Linked DNA regions of Homo sapiens. The protein of the gene in region 1 purifies or fractionates together with the protein of each later gene. This does not show direct contact. Each region holds a gene or a part of one and is shown on either strand. Other genes may lie near its edges. The genes, in order: POLM and ACAD8.

What was found.
Region 2: the proteins of POLM (region 1) and ACAD8 purify together in Homo sapiens (affinity purification with mass spectrometry; 2 studies listed by BioGRID and IntAct, with this or other methods). This does not show direct contact.

What each region holds. Positions count from the first base shown.
Region 1 is NC_000007.14:44,072,055-44,079,536, forward strand, and holds the end of POLM (DNA-directed DNA/RNA polymerase mu), read right to left. Parts: intron 6,758-7,482; coding exon 6,686-6,757; intron 4,576-6,685; coding exon 4,455-4,575; intron 2,477-4,454; coding exon 2,344-2,476; intron 2,180-2,343; coding exon 2,077-2,179; intron 1,972-2,076; coding exon 1,729-1,971; intron 1,655-1,728; coding exon 1,571-1,654; intron 1,380-1,570; exon of another isoform or gene 1,377-1,379; coding exon of another isoform or gene 1,324-1,376; coding exon 1,237-1,323; coding exon of another isoform or gene 1,008-1,236; 3' UTR 8-1,007; downstream 1-7. UniProt on the Homo sapiens protein: Gap-filling polymerase involved in repair of DNA double-strand breaks by non-homologous end joining (NHEJ). Participates in immunoglobulin (Ig) light chain gene rearrangement in V(D)J recombination.
Region 2 is NC_000011.10:134,248,321-134,256,726, reverse strand, and holds the start of ACAD8 (isobutyryl-CoA dehydrogenase, mitochondrial), read right to left. Parts: upstream 3,160-8,406; 5' UTR 3,127-3,159; coding exon 3,018-3,126; intron 180-3,017; coding exon 79-179; intron 1-78. Other genes in the region: THYN1 (thymocyte nuclear protein 1), read left to right, coding at 3,845-3,887, 5,419-5,597, 6,384-6,452, 6,807-6,899, 7,465-7,560, 7,768-7,918, 8,243-8,289.

The DNA.
Region 1 (7,482 bases):
CCAGTCCAAAGGTTAAATATAGTTTGGTTCTATTTACATGACATTCTAGAGAAAGCAAAACTATAGGGATGTAGCACCGCTAAGTGGGTGGGGGTGGAGAAGCACATGACCACAATAGGACAGCATGGGAAGTGTTCTGGGGATGGACCTGGTGTGCCCTACGTGTGCAAAAACTGCACCCCAAGAGTCAACTTTACTGCATGTTTTCAAAATATTTTTTAATGTGATGAGTGGTCTGGGAAATCCTCGCCTAACAAAGTGGCTTTTGATTCAAGGCCTGAAGAAGGGGAGGGCCCACTCCAGGTAGATGACATGGCCAGGGCAAAACCTGAGGCCAGAGTGTGCCTGGGGATATGAGGGACGTGGAGGGCACCCATGTCCAGCCCACCTCAGTGCTTCTGCCTCAGTGAGAAGGGGAGGGAGTTGGCCACAAGGGGGCCTGGGTGCATCAAATAGGAAGCCGGTGAGTCAAGCAGCTCGGGGCCAGTGGGGCTGGAGAGATGCCAGAGCCAGGGGCTATGTGTGGACTTAGGGTTTGGAACCATTAAAGGGCTCTGCGACGGGAGTGGCAGGATATGACCTATTTTTGAGACATTGTGCTGAGAACAGGCCTTAAAGGCAGAAGCACAGAGCCTGGCTCGGGGCGCTGCAGTACTGAAGCCCCATAGTTGAAAATTATCTTCCTCCCAGCTCCTACCCAGGCCCTCTCCCTCTCCAGATGCCTACAGCACACCAGACAGTAGGCTCCTTGCTGGCACGAACCACAGCCTCCAGCTCATGGCTCTCAAATGCAGTGCAGGTATGCATGGTTCTCTTCTGGGCATTCTGGGCAGGGTGCCCTGCAGGAGCCACAGTTAACTGCAGTGCAACTAATGAGACACTGCACATCAGGGACCACTTGCCATTCATGACTGCAGGCCCCACCACAGCTCCACGATGTGGGCCCCACTCACATCCCATCCAGGGCAGGAACGTGAGCCATGGGGAGGCTAAGAGCAGACCCAGGGTCACACAGTGATGAGGCTGGCACTGAGGGCTCCCACCTCATCACACCCTGCAGCACACCAGCAGGGGCTCAACTGATCCTGCAGGCACAATTGACCTCCGGAAGAGCCAGGCCTTGGCGGGGAGGGGTGAAGGTGGGGGTCAGGGGGCAGCATATCTGCCTGGAGACATTCAGTGGCCAGGTTGGGGGCAGCCCAATTTCCTGAGTGGAAGTGGGGGACACAGGCAGGCTCAGGCGTTTCTCTGCTCTGGAGGAAGGTACTCAAGGCCCAGGTGTCTGAAGATGTCTTCCTCTGAAGCCGCTTGGAAAAATGTCTTCTGCAACAGAAGCAGGACTTCCGTGACCTAGGAGTCTTGCCACTGCTGCTTCCCTGCAGGAAGACTGAGGGTGGGGAAGAGCCCAGCGCCGAGGTGGGGTGTGCTCTTGAGGGCCAGGAACTGTGTGTGGAGACCCAGATTCGGGTCCTATGGGTTTCAGGCTGGAGGGGTCTGGGGCCATTTCAGATTGTGGGTCAGGGAGCGGACTATGGGTGCTGTTTGCTGTCCCCAGTCCCCAACAATGTACCTGCTCCGGGTCAAACAGCCCATGGCTGTTCAGCCACAGGCCCTTCTCCTTCCGGCTGAAGCGGCGCAGCTCCCGCTGGAAAAGCTGTAGGGAAGGGATTGTCCTCAGCAGGGCTGGCCCAGCCCCACCCCCAGGCGGCCCAGCGGCACACTGCCTACCTTGGAGCCAGTCCAACCGAGCAGGGCGAAAGGGAACTGGCTGACGGGTGCAACTACCAAGTCCACTCTCACGGCCTTCCAGGATGGGCAGGGCCTCGTGGATCCCCCCACAGCAGCCCCTGGAGGTTGTGGTAGGCGGAAAATGCAGAAACTTCTCTCAAAAGCGTCCATGTGGCTCTGTTGGGCCAGGCGGGTAGGGGACTCACAGCAGCTGTGCTGGTGCTGGTGGTACAGGATGAGGCCCTGTGGGGAGAGGCGGGCGTGGCTGAGACCATCCGGTGGTGTGGAGAGAGCAGGAGGCAGTGGCATTGGCCAGCGGTGGCTCTTGGGGAGCAGGGAGGCCCTCACCTGGTCCTGCAGGCGGCACATCACTCTAGGCAGCAGCCCCGCCTCCTGACCCTCCTTGGGGTGGGTGATGAGGAAGTCCACGTCATGGCCCTGCAACTTCCCCCTGAGGGCGTCAGTCTGACTCTGACTCAGGGACACGGCCTGCTCACTCCAGCCCCAGGCCACATCCCTTCCAACGAGTGGGCCCGCTTCAGGGTCCCCGACTCAGGTCCCTTCACTGGGGAGGGGTCTGAAGCCAAGCCAGAGGGGCACGTCGGGCCTTCTTACCTGCGGAAGCCGCCGGTCAGCGTGACGGTGGCCCCAGGCAGGGCCTGCCCCACAGCTTCCTCCACCACCTGCTGCAGGGCATCTACATCGGACCGCAGGACTGGGGTGCTCAGGTCCTGGTGGTGCTGGAGCCCTGGGGGCAACACCGGCCCTCCTGACTCACCCAGCCTGCCCACCACACCGAGCCCCCATCCCTCACCAGCATGAGGTGATCAACCTGGGGCCCCGTCATTGCAGGACCAGGAGAGGCCTCCGAGGAAGGTGAGGCTAGGGCAGGGAGCAGAGTGAGATCCCAATCTAAGCCTGACACTATCTTCTCTCCCCCTTTAAATTTTAAACTTTTATTTTGAGACAGTTGTAGATTCACTCGCAGTTAAAAGAAATAGCACAGAGGGAGATCCCATGTGCCTTTTACCCAGCTCCCCCAAAAGGTTAACCCCTTACAAAACTATAATTTTGCAACCAAATATAAGGATACTGATGTTGATACAGTCATGCCACAGGCTATCTCTTTTGATGGCTGTTTTTCCTTATGCATAAAGTGGGACCAAGAGGTGGTAAAAGGATGGAAGATGGCTTTGCCATGACGAACACCTCACTCTGGCCTACTTCTGTTTCCTCACCTATCAGCCTCCCACACGCAGTTAAGGAGAGGTTTATTTATTTATTTGAGATGGAGTCTCGCTCTTGTTGCCCAGGTTGGAGGGCAGTGGCGCAATCTGAGCTTACTGCAACCTCCACCTCCCAGGTTCAAGTGATTCTCCTGCCTCAGCCTCCCGAGTAGCTGAGATTACGGGTGTCTGCCACCACACCCAGCTAATTTTTTATTTTTAGTAGAGACAGGGTTTCGCCACGTTGGCCAGGCTGGTCTTGAACTCCTAACCTCAGGTGATCCACCCGCCTCGGCCTCTCAAAGTGCTGGGACTACATAAAGATGTGAGTCATGGCACCCAGCTAAGGAGAGGTTTAAATGTGAGGAACAGCAGCACCTGGCACAGTGAGCTCTCAGTAAACGCTGCTAACCATTCCTGACTACTCTTGCCATGGGGAGAGGCGATCAAGAGGAACCAGCTCTGCGGGTCTCACCTCCTGTCAGCTGAACTGGGCAGTGGCCCGGGGGAAGATGTGCGAAGAGGCAGTGGAGCTGGCAGTGCCTGCTGGGCTGTGGGGATTGCTTCAGCAGAGCCCTCAACCCAAGGGAGGTCCCAGATGGTGTGGCCAGAGTAGCCAGGCAGGCCATGCAGAGAGAACAGAGTATCTGCTCAACACCTGCCACTTGCCGGCTCTCACAGGGGAGCCTACGAATTCATTCCTTCCCACCTTTTTTTTTTTTTTTTTTTGAGATAGGGTCTTGCTCTGTCACTCAGGCTGGAGTGCAGTGGCTCAATCTCAGCTCATTGCAACTTCCACCTTGGCCTCAAGGCTTGACCTCCCGGGCTCGAGCGATCCTTGTACCTCGGCCTCATGAGTAGCTGGTACTACGGGCATCCACCATCACGCCTGGCTAACTCTTGTATTTCTCGTAGAGACAGGGTTTCACCCTGTTGCCCAGACTGGTCTTGAACTGCTGAGCTCAAGCGATCTACCCACCTTGACCTCCCAAAGTGCTGGGATTACAGGTGTGAGTCACCATGCCCAGCCTTCCTTCTCCATTTTACAGAAAATGTAACAGACTCAGAGAGGTTATTTCTTGGGCAATGGTCACCTACCTGGCAAATGGTAGATAAGACTCAAACCCAGGCCTAACAAACTTGAAAGCTGATGTTCTTTCTGCTGCTCAGTGCCACCTCTGCAGGCCTCCATGTACCAAGCACCACACTGGGCAGTGTGCCCAAGGCCCAGGCTGTCCCTGGTCACTGGTCAAAGTCTAACCAGTAGGCAGACACAAGCCCCTGGCATATCATGGAAGTTGCTGTGGTCAGCATCGTCCACTGAGAAAAGGCTTTGATAGATCCTGACTGCACTGGGTGGAGACCCCAGGAAGCCCACCACACAAAGCTGCCACCAAACCCTCTGCACCAGACTGCTCCCTTCCCTCTAGGGAGTTGATGCTGAGGGATCCAGGGTGCAGTTTAGGGAAGCCCAGGGCCCAGCCTCTCTGGAGGGCTCACCCGCTTTCTGCTGTTGGGTTAGTTTCTGGGGCTGCTCTCGGAGGTCATCTAAGGTTCGCAGTCCTTCCCGGTACCACCGGTCAGCAGTCTTCACACCGACCCCGAAGATCTGGGTGAAGAGCTGTGGGGAAGGAGCGTAGCCCGGTTGGGCAGAGCTCTCATGGCTAGACTCGGATGATCACCCGCTCCGGGACGGTGTGGCCCATGGAGCACCATGCACCAGGCAGGCGCCGTCCCCACTCGCAACCTGCCGTAGACCACAGGGCAAGGATTCAAACCTGGAGCCTGACTACCCAGCCTGCCGTCTCTGGGAACAAACCCACGCACACCCCTCTCCTCTCCTCTATGAAAGGGACTTACACAGCTCTAGCCTGTGATTCCAACATAATCAAAACAGTCACCCTAACACATCAGCACGAGGGGCTCCTAAGTCACTGGAAAAACCATGCCTCTCCCACCTAACAGAAGGTGGAACAAATTTCTGTGGTTCTCCTCCTTAGCCAACAGCAAAAAACAATGAGGAGTTAACAATCAAAAGGGTGGATTTAGGAGCAGAGTTGGCAGGGCTGGCTGGGGTGCTCACATATCTTCCCACAGAGGGTGGGCCCCAGCCCAAGCAAGTCACCTGCTTCAGGTCAGCCACTAGAGTCCCTCCCTAGGAATTCTGGATCTGAGACTGAGGGCAGGCCCACACAGTGGCAGAAGCTGTAGCCTGTGGCAGCCGAGCACCTTTTGTGGCCACATTTCCAACCGATGGAAGAAGCTGGTGCGTCGCAAGAGAGGGCGAAGCCACCGTGCAGAGGGGCAGAGGGGAGGAGGAGTGGCCTGGTGATACCCAGGTCGCTGAGCCCAGTTGTCCTGCAGACCGGCCACAGCCCTCCCCATCCTGGGCTCTGCTGGCCCTCCTTTCCTTTATTTTGTGAACCAACGGTGTGGGGTGGGTCACTGTCACTTGCAACCCAAAGAATCCTGACTAAAAATGATGAGATTAACCCAATTATATTGTTAATAAACTTCTCATTACTAATGTAATTTTCTGCCAGCCTAGATGCCTTCAGGGCTGGGGCTGAGGCTGACAGTGAAAGTACTCACTAACCTCACACCACTTCAAGGGGATTTCATCATCTTCAGGCCCCTCACTCCCACACTCACCACGGTGGCCCCACTCATCTGGTCCCCTGTCCCTGCCAGTGCCCCTTGCCCCCTTCCCTGCATATTTGAGCCCATTTGCCCTGCACACACTGCTCAAGTCTCTCCTCTTCGAAGCCCTCCCTGTCAATCCTGACAACATTCTGTGTGACCTCCCAAGGCCCCATCCACCCAGGAAGCCACACTTCACTGACAGTTATCCATGTGGCCACCGCTGTGACACCTCCAGCCACAAAGCCAGTTGGCAGAAGGGTGTCAAAGCAGGCACACCCGAGGCATCCAAAAGAACTCAGACGGCATTTCCCTATCAGACCAGGAGTGAGCAGAAACAGAGGGAAGGTGGCCATGGAAACAGGCAGGCTGACAACACTGAGAAAATAACACATAAGGTCCTGCAGAAGGCGGGCAAGGGCAAGCCCAGCATGCTCAGTGGCAGCACCCAAGGGTACATTTGGTTCACAGTGCTCTGTTTAAGATGCCACAGCATGTAATCTACTTGAGAATATTCCATCAAAAACAGTCAAGGCAGAGCGAAGTGGCTCATGCCTATAATCCCAGCATTTTGGGGACCAAGGCAGGAGAATCATTTGAGCATAGGGGTTTGAGACCAGCTTAGGCAACATTACCAAGACCCCATCTTTACGAGAAAGATTTAAAAATTAACCTGGTGTGGTGGCACATGCCTGTAGTCCCAGCTACTCCAGAGACTGAGGTGGGAGGATGGTTTGAGCCCAGGAAGTCAAGGCTGCCGTGAGCTGTGATCGCACCACTGTACTCCAGCCTGGGCGACAGAGCGAGACCCTGTCTCAAAAACAAAATAAAACAAAAAGCCCCAAAAGCCAGATGGTGCTGAGTGATCTAGAAAATTCTGTCCTCAAAACAAGCTTCTTCCTTGCCTGTCTCCACTTGGCTGCCTTGTGCATATCAGGTATCAGCTTAGCTGCCACTTCCTCGGCAAGACCTTCTCTGACCCCTGGGCTGGGTCAGCTGCCCCTGTTTGCCTCCCCGTGCATGGTGTGGACTGTGTTGTCATTCCCAGGGCAGGACATTCCTGGGGTAGGTCCGAGCCCTGCCCTGCGCACCTTCATGGTCTGGTACCTCTCTGAGCGCCGAACTCTCTCCACCTCCTCACACACTCCATGCTCCAGCAGCTCCTGGGGGAGGGAACAAAGCAGAACTCTAAGCCTGAGGGCGTGGGAAGAAAGAGAAGGGCGGGGAGTTAGGGTCAGGGCTGGGGGCCCAAGGACTGAGGCAGTCCCCTCCAACACCCGGCAGAGACAACTTTGTGAGGTCAGGGTCCAGTAGGACCTGGAAATGGAGACTGTGCCCAGGGAGGTGACCAAAGTTGCTGCCACACAGCTGGGAGGTCAGGGCTCCAGCCTCAAAGCTCCTTCGGGCCTGGAGTTACAGCAGCTGAGATGCCAGGTAACGTGGATCATCTCTCAGTCAAATAAGTCCCAAGATACATAAACAATTGCTTTTCAGAACATGTGAACTCAATACTACTTCATTTAAAAGCATCTTCTGTCACTGTGTATTCTTGCAATGAAAGTGCACTAAAGGACAACTAAACACACTGGGGCACTGAAAAGAGATGCTCACACTCAGGGTGCTCTCTTTCATTCCACTGTGGAGGGCAGTTTGGGACTAATGACAATGACAACAGTGTCACCCCTAGCCCTGCCAGGCCCCTCACAGCGCCATTCACTGGGTCCTCTAGGCCACCCAGGAGTAAATGGCTAGTGTGCACAGGAGGAATCTGAGCGCAGAGGGTGGCTTGTTGAGGCCTTGGAGCAGTGTCAGCACCCACGACTGTCTGTCCTCACCCACCCCCACAGCACCCTCTGCTGTCTCACCAGGCCCCAAGGCCTCCCCACCC
Region 2 (8,406 bases), on another chromosome or scaffold:
ACATTATCAGGAGACAAAGATAAAGGTCTGCCTGAGACATCTGTTGTTAGAACGTCTAAGCACAAGAAAAACGCCTACCTTCTGGTCCCACTCTGCCATATTTGGAGCCATCTCTCGGGCAGCAAAGTCAAAGGCCACTTTTTGAAATTCTTTCTGCTCTTCATTAAGTCCCATGGAAGCTGTGGGCAGGATTGCATATACTGTTCTAGGACAGGGTCAGTGTTGCCAACAAGGTGTTGCCAACAAGAAGCACCACGAAGTTGTGAAAGTGGATCTACTGTAGTATTTCCCATACACGGTATAGCCTTTAACAGCTAGAGAATGGCAGCTTCTGTCGTTATTCCACTTGTCATATGGAGAAAGGACAGTTCTAGCACACATCCAGATCAACCTAGAACAGGATAGGGGACTTCCAGACATCTCTTATCCTAGCACTTAGTAAAATGCAGTTGTAGACCTAGAGGTTGAGGCCACAGTGCTAGAACTTTGGTCATTATAACTGACACTGAAGAGCACTATGGGCTGGGCGTGATGGTTCACGCCTATAATCCCAGCACTTCAGGAGGCCGAGGCGGGCAGATCACCTGAGGTCAGGAGCTCAAGACCAGCCTGACCAACATGGAAAAACCCCGCCTCTACTAAAAATACAAAAATTAGCTGGGTGTGGTGGCGCATGCCTGTAATCCCAGCTACTTTGGGAGGGTGAGACAGGAGAATCGCTTGAACCCAGGAGGCAGAGGTTGCAGTGAGCTGAGATTGTGCCATTGCACTCTAGCCTGGGTGACAGAGCAAGACTCTGTTTCAAAAGAAGAAAAAAAGAAAAAAGAGCACTATGGGAAGACTATGGCGCCACACTTGGCAATAATTTACTTCAGTGCCTACAAGCGATGCAGTCCTCACAGAAGAACACAAGGGCAGGTGCCAGAGTCTGTTCCTTGGGGCAAATCTGGGCATCAGTAATGGCTGGCTATGCGAGCCTGGAGAGGGCACTGCTTTCTGTGATCAGTACTCTCATTAAAATGGGAAAGTCAGAAATGAAGAGTTCTGAGGATTAACGATTAGGCTGCCTTGAGAAACTCAGAGCAGAAACCTATGTTGGGTATTACCCTCAGGAACAGAGTTAGGGATAAACAATTCATGGTTCTCTGACTGGGGTCAGGCCATTTATTCACACAATTTTGTACAAGGGTTGCTGTTACTGTAGACCATGGCTCAAAGATCATTTCCAAAAGAATGTTTATTGGGTGTTTACTAGGTAGCAGTGCTGGGGTTACAAAAATAAATATGATCCAGCCAGGCGCAGTGGCTCATGCCTGTAATCCCAGACTTTGGGGAGGCCAAGGCAGGTGGATCACTTGAGGTCAGGAGTTCAAGTCCAGCTTGTCCAACATGGTGAAACCCCGTCTCTACTAAAAATATAAAAATTAGCTGGGCATGGTGGCATGTGCTGTAATCCCAGCTACTTGGGAGGCTGAGGCACAAGAATTGCTTGAACCCGTGGGGCAGAGGTTGCGGTGAGTTGAGATCGCACCACTGTACTCCAGCCTGGGCAACAGAAAGAGACTCCATCTCAAAAAAATAAATAAATAAGATCCATTCACACAAAGGATGACTATTTCAATCCTAGCAAGAGCTCATTAAATGTTAACAAATCTTCTTCTTCTGTAAATGGCTACTTCCTAAAACAAATAGTTCAAGGAACCACAGGCTTAAGAAATAAATCTGAGTTGCATTCTAATGGAAGGAAATAGTTTTATGCAAATCATATGCATAAGTAAACACAAGTTCCCAGAAGGAAATACAGTATAAAAACAAAACAAATACCACCACTCATGAACTTTGCCAGTTACTAGCAGAGTTCAAGATGCCAATACATAGTTACTAGCAGAGCTCAAGATGCCAATACATATACACTAAAAAGGTAAAGCTAAATAGAAAAACACTCCAAATGAAATGGGAAAAGCCTTTGACTGCAGAGCCACTCAAGTGTAAGCAAGATGCAAACAATAACAAAACCCACCTCTAAATAATTCCTTATCTGCTTCGGTATCAACCAGGGTAATCTGGGTTATCAAATTCTAAGCGCTAGGCCAGGGCAGCACCTCTTGAATGAGTTTTAGGACATTCAGAAGAAAACAGTATTCTATGCCTTACTGTACTTTATAGATCTGATATCTAAGGGACTTATTCTGTTGTAAAGAAAACTGCCATTTATTTAAAATAAATTTAAAAATATTTCAGAAGAAAAAAGTGTTTATAAACATTCTTGGCAGAGAAGTCACAAACTGGCCGGGTCTCCACCACTCCTCGCTACATTCAAATTACTGTTCAGAGCCTAAAGACACTCAAGTTTGTCAGCTCTGGTAGAGTTTCCCACTGGCAATAATAATTATTTTTCCTGCATGAGTTTCAACACTAAAAGTGTCTTATAGCCAGAGGTGTTAAGATACCAAATCTTTGTGTGTGAGCAAATCTTGTATGACCTGGAGTTCTTGTGCAGTTGTCACCATCAGCACCCAGCCAGCTTCTTATATTCTCACTGCTTTTATGACCTACTGTTATGATTAAAAACCAACCAACCCAACAACAACCAAGCCCCAAGTTTCTTCACTTCTCTAAGCATCCGAGGGTGACCGGCCGCAGGAGGACCCGGGCCGGAGGGGAACCTGCGGGGGGATGACCGGCCGGAGGGGAACCTGCGGGGGGTGACCGGCCGGAGGAGGACCGGGGCGGGGGTGACCGGCCGGAGGAGGACCGGGGCGGGGGTGACCGGCCGGAGGAGGACCCGGGCAGGGGTGACGGGCCAGATGGGGACCCGGATGGTGGTGACCGACCGGAGGGGGCAGCCAGGCCGGGGGTGACCGGCCGGAGTAGGGAGCCAGGCCGGGGGGGTGACTGGCCGGAAGGGGAGCTGACGCCGGGGTGACTGGATGGAACGGGGAGACTGCAGCCCCTCGCGGACATATGTCCGCCGGGGTTCTGGACACCTGTCCTACTGCCCGCCAGGAGATCCTTACGGTCGATGCAGGAGGTCAAGCTCCGGTGGCCGGTCTGGACGAGGACCCGGAGACCGCCGGGCAGGCAGCCGAGGCGCGCCCCGAAACGCCGGCAGCCGCTCCACAGCATAGCCGCCGCAGCTCCGCGTTCAGCTAAGAGTCTGAACGCCTTCGACCTCCGTTGCGCTCGCACTGGCGGGACCTGCGACCCGGCAACGCCTGTCCCACTGCACCCTGGGGGTTGTAGTCCTCCCACGAGCCCTAACAACCCAGGTGCCAGGCGGGCTCCCAAGGGGACAGGACTACAATTCCCAGAAGTCCTCGGGGCCTCGGCGCCGCAGAGATGCACCGCCCACCAAGCGCCGCGGGGGTCGCGCTGCACAGCCTGCGGCGCAGCGGAGGCGGACCGCAGTCGAGTCTGCAGAGTGTTGGGTCTGTAGCCAGCAAATTACTTCATCATCTAGATTATCCATTCAGTTGATCCTAATTAGCAAGGATAACAAGGTAACACAAGGCTTACTTATATTCACCCAACAAAAGTGTCTCTGTGGAGCCACTTCCCAGTGAACTACATACTGAGATAGGGGTTCCTGGATGAGAAGGACCAAGGACAGAACCGAGAAGAGTTTAGGGGCAGGTTATGCGAGATGGAAATGGCGCAGATAACGGAGGGAAGGATTTGAGGGCTCAAACGTAGGCGTCTGTGTTTCGCAAAAGTTGGAGACGTTCTAGGCTGCCTCTCGTTGCCTCCATCTCGCTCTGCGCGGGTTTTGGAGGACATTAGCATTCTTTCTTGTATCTCCGTTGATTCCAGAATCGTCCGCACTAAAGTCCCCTGCAGCGTGACCATGTCGAGACCCCGGAAGAGGCTGGCTGGGACTTCTGGTTCAGGTGAGCTGCCCCTAGGCTGCACAAAGGCAGCCCAAGAAAAAACTTTTCTCGAAGAGCCTGTTTAGTACTCATTTTTCACTCCCTGCTTTTTGAGAACCCTTTGTGATATTTTTACTCCATTATCCTTAATCACTCTCCATCTTCTTTACTTGTCTCACCAAGCTCCTACCTACAGTTCCTTTTTCTTGTTTATTCAGGCAATGGTTGTTGTGCACAAAGACTCTTTGAGATACCAGGTGGCGTGCTAAAGAATATAAAGCGCCTGCTTGCGGGTGAACTGCAAACAGATGTGATGGGGTTCAGGAAAATGGATTGTTAAGTTTATGGAGGGAGGAATCACGGGGAAGGCCTCGAGAAGGATGTGGAATTTGAGCCCAGCCTTGAAGAATGGGAGACTTTCCACGGGCAAAGTTTAGTACTAAGAAAACGTGATGTCGTTTTTATAATCACAAAGATGGATGGCATTCTAAGTGGATGGAGGAGGAGGAACATTGGAAGGTACAGAAAGTACCTCTTTTGGGAATGACAGGGGTTCCAGATATACTACAGCACATTGCAGTTATTTATCAATATGTGGTGTTTGCAGTGGGCCTGTTAACTCCTAAGGGGCCATTAGGAAACTAGGTTAGGAAGGTATGCTGGGTTCAGAGCATTAGACAGCCATAAATGGTATTTAATGACAATTGATGTAGGGACTTTGACTAAATTCAGAGGCAGTATAGTCATTAAGTAGCTTCAGATAGACCTCAGTGACAGGTGCTGACCTCATATCTTGATTCCACCATTACTGGATGTGTGATCTGGAGCATGCTTCCCAGATGAAGAGTAGAACATCTCACAGGTTATGTAGATTAACCGAGTTAGGGTTAGGGTAACACATAGACCTTGGGCCCTGTCATATAGTAATTTAACAACTTAGCTACTGAATGCCTACTGTGTTCCAGGCACATTCTGATTGTCTTGGGATGAAATCGAATCATCACCATTTTTCTACAATGTCCTGAATGAACTGTTTCTTTCAACTTTTATTGGCACCTTCAAGGAGCAGAAAGGAGATGGGCCAGGAGCCACAGTGAGCAAGAAGGAAAGACGTATGAGATGAGAATAATAATGCTTTTATTATGCACTTATTGTAATGCCAGGCATTGTCTAGGCCCTTTGTATTACCTCATTTAAGCTTCAAAATAGTTGCAAGTAGGTGCTCAGTTTCCTCTTTCCTATGCAAAGGCATAGAAGAGAGAGTGAGGAAAGGAAAACATGTATTGACTACTGTCCGGACCTTTAATCCTGAACAACCCTGTAAGGTGTTCTTACCCTATTGAATAGATAATCCAGAAGATACCCTGTAAGGTAGGTATTCTTGTCTAATTTTTATAGATAAGGAAAGCTTCTTAACAGTAAGATTAAGTTCCTACAGCTGGTAATGGATCCATGATTTGAATCCAGGTCTGACTCCAAAGCTAAGCTTTTTCCATTATGAAACATTGCCTTTAACAAGCATGATCTTTTCTTTTTGCTTCTCCTATTGCAGACAAGGGACTATCAGGAAAACGCACCAAAACTGAGAACTCAGGTGAGGCATTAGCTAAAGTGGAGGACTCCAACCCTCAGAAGACTTCAGCCACTAAAAACTGTTTGAAGAATCTAAGCAGCCACTGGCTGATGAAGTCAGAGCCAGAGAGCCGCCTAGAGAAAGGTGTAGATGTGAAGGTGAGACCCTTGACCTGTCTCCAGTCCCTTCATGGTGTTTTTTAAATGAGAAGTGAATATGGGACACCATAGGGTTCCATCCCCAGCTTCTTATCTTTGAAGGGAAGGAAAAAGGTAAAAATGAATAAAATCGGCAGGGTTTATTATCATCAGCTGGTTTGTGAACCTGTGTATCTAGGGCAGGGGTTGGCTAACCTTTGCCACAAAGGGCCAGATAGTAAATTTTGTAGGCTTGTGCGTGTTACAGTCTCTGTTGCAACCCTGCCCTTGTAGCAAGAGAGTGGCCACAGATAATAAGTAAACAGCTGTGGCTGTGTTCAAGTTCAACTTTATTCACAAAATCCAGCATGGGGTTAGATTTGTCCTGAAGGCTATAGTCTGCCAACCTCAATCTTAGGTTACCTTTCTCTGAACACCTGCCATGCTCCTAGGTGTCTCCCTGCCAACAGTTGATGTATATTTCAGGGAATTTAATATAGCCTGGGAAAAATATAAGCAGAACTATTATAAATATAAAGTAAAATGCAAGTAACTAGCAGATTACTTTATCACCTAGATTATTCATTCAGCTAATCCTCATAATTAGCAAGGATAACAAGGTAACACAAGGCTTACTTACATTCACCCAGCAAAAGTGTCTCTGTGGAGCCACTTCCCGGTGAACTACATACTTCCTCTATAGCCAGTGGCCCCTCTCATTTTAGGGGAAGGAACTGTCTGCTTCCATATGTGCTTACTAACTGGCCAAGGATTGTTTAATGATTGAATTTATTTCCTCTTGCCTAGTTCAGCATTGAGGATCTCAAAGCACAGCCCAAACAGACAACATGCTGGGATGGTGTTCGTAACTACCAGGTAAGAGGGTAAGGAGGAGGTCGCCTGAGACCCAGGTGGGATGAATGCCTGCCTCCTCCTCATGACGTACTCAGTAGCAGAACCTCTTGGCCAAGGTTGCTTTTTCTCAGAAGCAAACCTGATAATGTATTAAAAAATGCCTTAAGTACTCTGCATGAAATTTTCAATTGGCCTGTGTTCTGGCCAATGTCCTGGTAAAAGTCTGGGTGTCCTGGCAAAGGGGAAGGACTTTCTAATGAATTGAGGAGTTGCAGACAAGAATCACCCATCTATTAAAAGCAGACTTGATTTCTGCTAAAAGCTAGTACTTTCCAGCTGGTGGGAGGATAGTTACTCTTTCTTCTCCCGGGACAGGCTCGGAACTTCCTTAGAGCCATGAAGCTGGGAGAAGAAGCCTTCTTCTACCATAGCAACTGCAAAGAGCCAGGCATCGCAGGACTCATGAAGGTTAGTTGGGCAGGTTTTGGTGTGAATCCCTTTTCCTCCAGGGAGACTAACTTAAGTAGATATAAAGGGATATACCTTAATTAGGCAACAAAAAAGTACACTCCCCCCCACCCCATCCCCCTTTTACAGGAATAGGGAAAAACTGCCCTGGCCCCTTCCTATCTGATAACTCAAAGCAGGCCTTCATTCAGGTCCGACTAGCACAGACTTCACTCCACCTCTAAGTCTTGATCTCACTCGAAAACAGGCCTGATGATAGCTCCTCCAAGCTTATCAGGATAAAATTATTAACTGTGCAGAGGGGAAAAAAACAGTGGTACCAGTAATAACCTTTGCCATTTGTTTTTAGAGCATGTTTTTAAGACTTTTGTAAAAACAGAGTTGATTTCCTAGTCTATATATTAGACTATATATTGTTTCCAAATATCTGAGCCCCCATTGGCTGTACAGCAAGGCAGATGGGTTAAGAATGTGCAGGGAAGAAATGAAAGTTGGATATGGATTAAAAGATTGGCTGTGGAGCTGACTGCAGGCAGATGATTCAAAGCTTTTGTTTTGGTTTCAGATCGTGAAAGAGGCTTACCCAGACCACACACAGTTTGAGAAAAACAATCCCCATTATGACCCATCTAGCAAAGAGGACAACCCTAAGTGGTCCATGGTAAAGACTATGCTTTCTATTTCATGACAGGGGAAGGATGAACCAGGGGAAGAAGACGGTTGGGGTGACTGTAGGTCAAGGTACACGGCCCAGCACTTACTCAGATGAGGTGATACTGAGATAGGAGCTTCCTGTGGGCGGTTAAAAATACAGTGGGCACAGTCAGCCTAGACACGTCTTTCTGTCATGTACACTGTTGTCACATAGGTGGATGTACAGTTTGTTCGGATGATGAAACGTTTCATTCCCCTGGCTGAGCTCAAATCCTATCATCAAGCTCACAAAGCTACTGGTGGCCCCTTAAAAAATATGGTTCTCTTCACTCGCCAGAGATTATCAATCCAGCCCCTGACCCAGGGTAAGAGTGGGCCCTCTCCTTTATTGTCCATATACCAGAATGACCTCATGAATTCCCACTTACTAGCTGATTAAACTTGGGCATGGTACTTCACCTTTCTCAGTCAGCATCCTCACCTGTAACACCCATGAGGGAGGGAATGTGGCCAGAGTTACCTGTTACTATTACCCAGTACTCTATAGTGCTTGGCACCTGGTAAATAGTTTTGAACGAATGACTGCTCGCCTTAGTACCATGTAAGATGTACCTGTGCCTGGCACAACTTTCCTGTTCAAGAGGGGACATTAAAAACTAATCCTTCCTTTTTCCCTTTTTTTTTTGTAGAAGAGTTTGATTTTGTTTTGAGCCTGGAGGAAAAGGAACCAAGTTAACTGAGATACTGCTGCTGGAATGGGCGAGACATTGCTGCAAAGAAGTCAAGCTTTTTTCAGACAAAAGGTGTGAGGGGGCTTGCTTGGTATGCTTACCTGGGCTTGTGTACCTCAGTG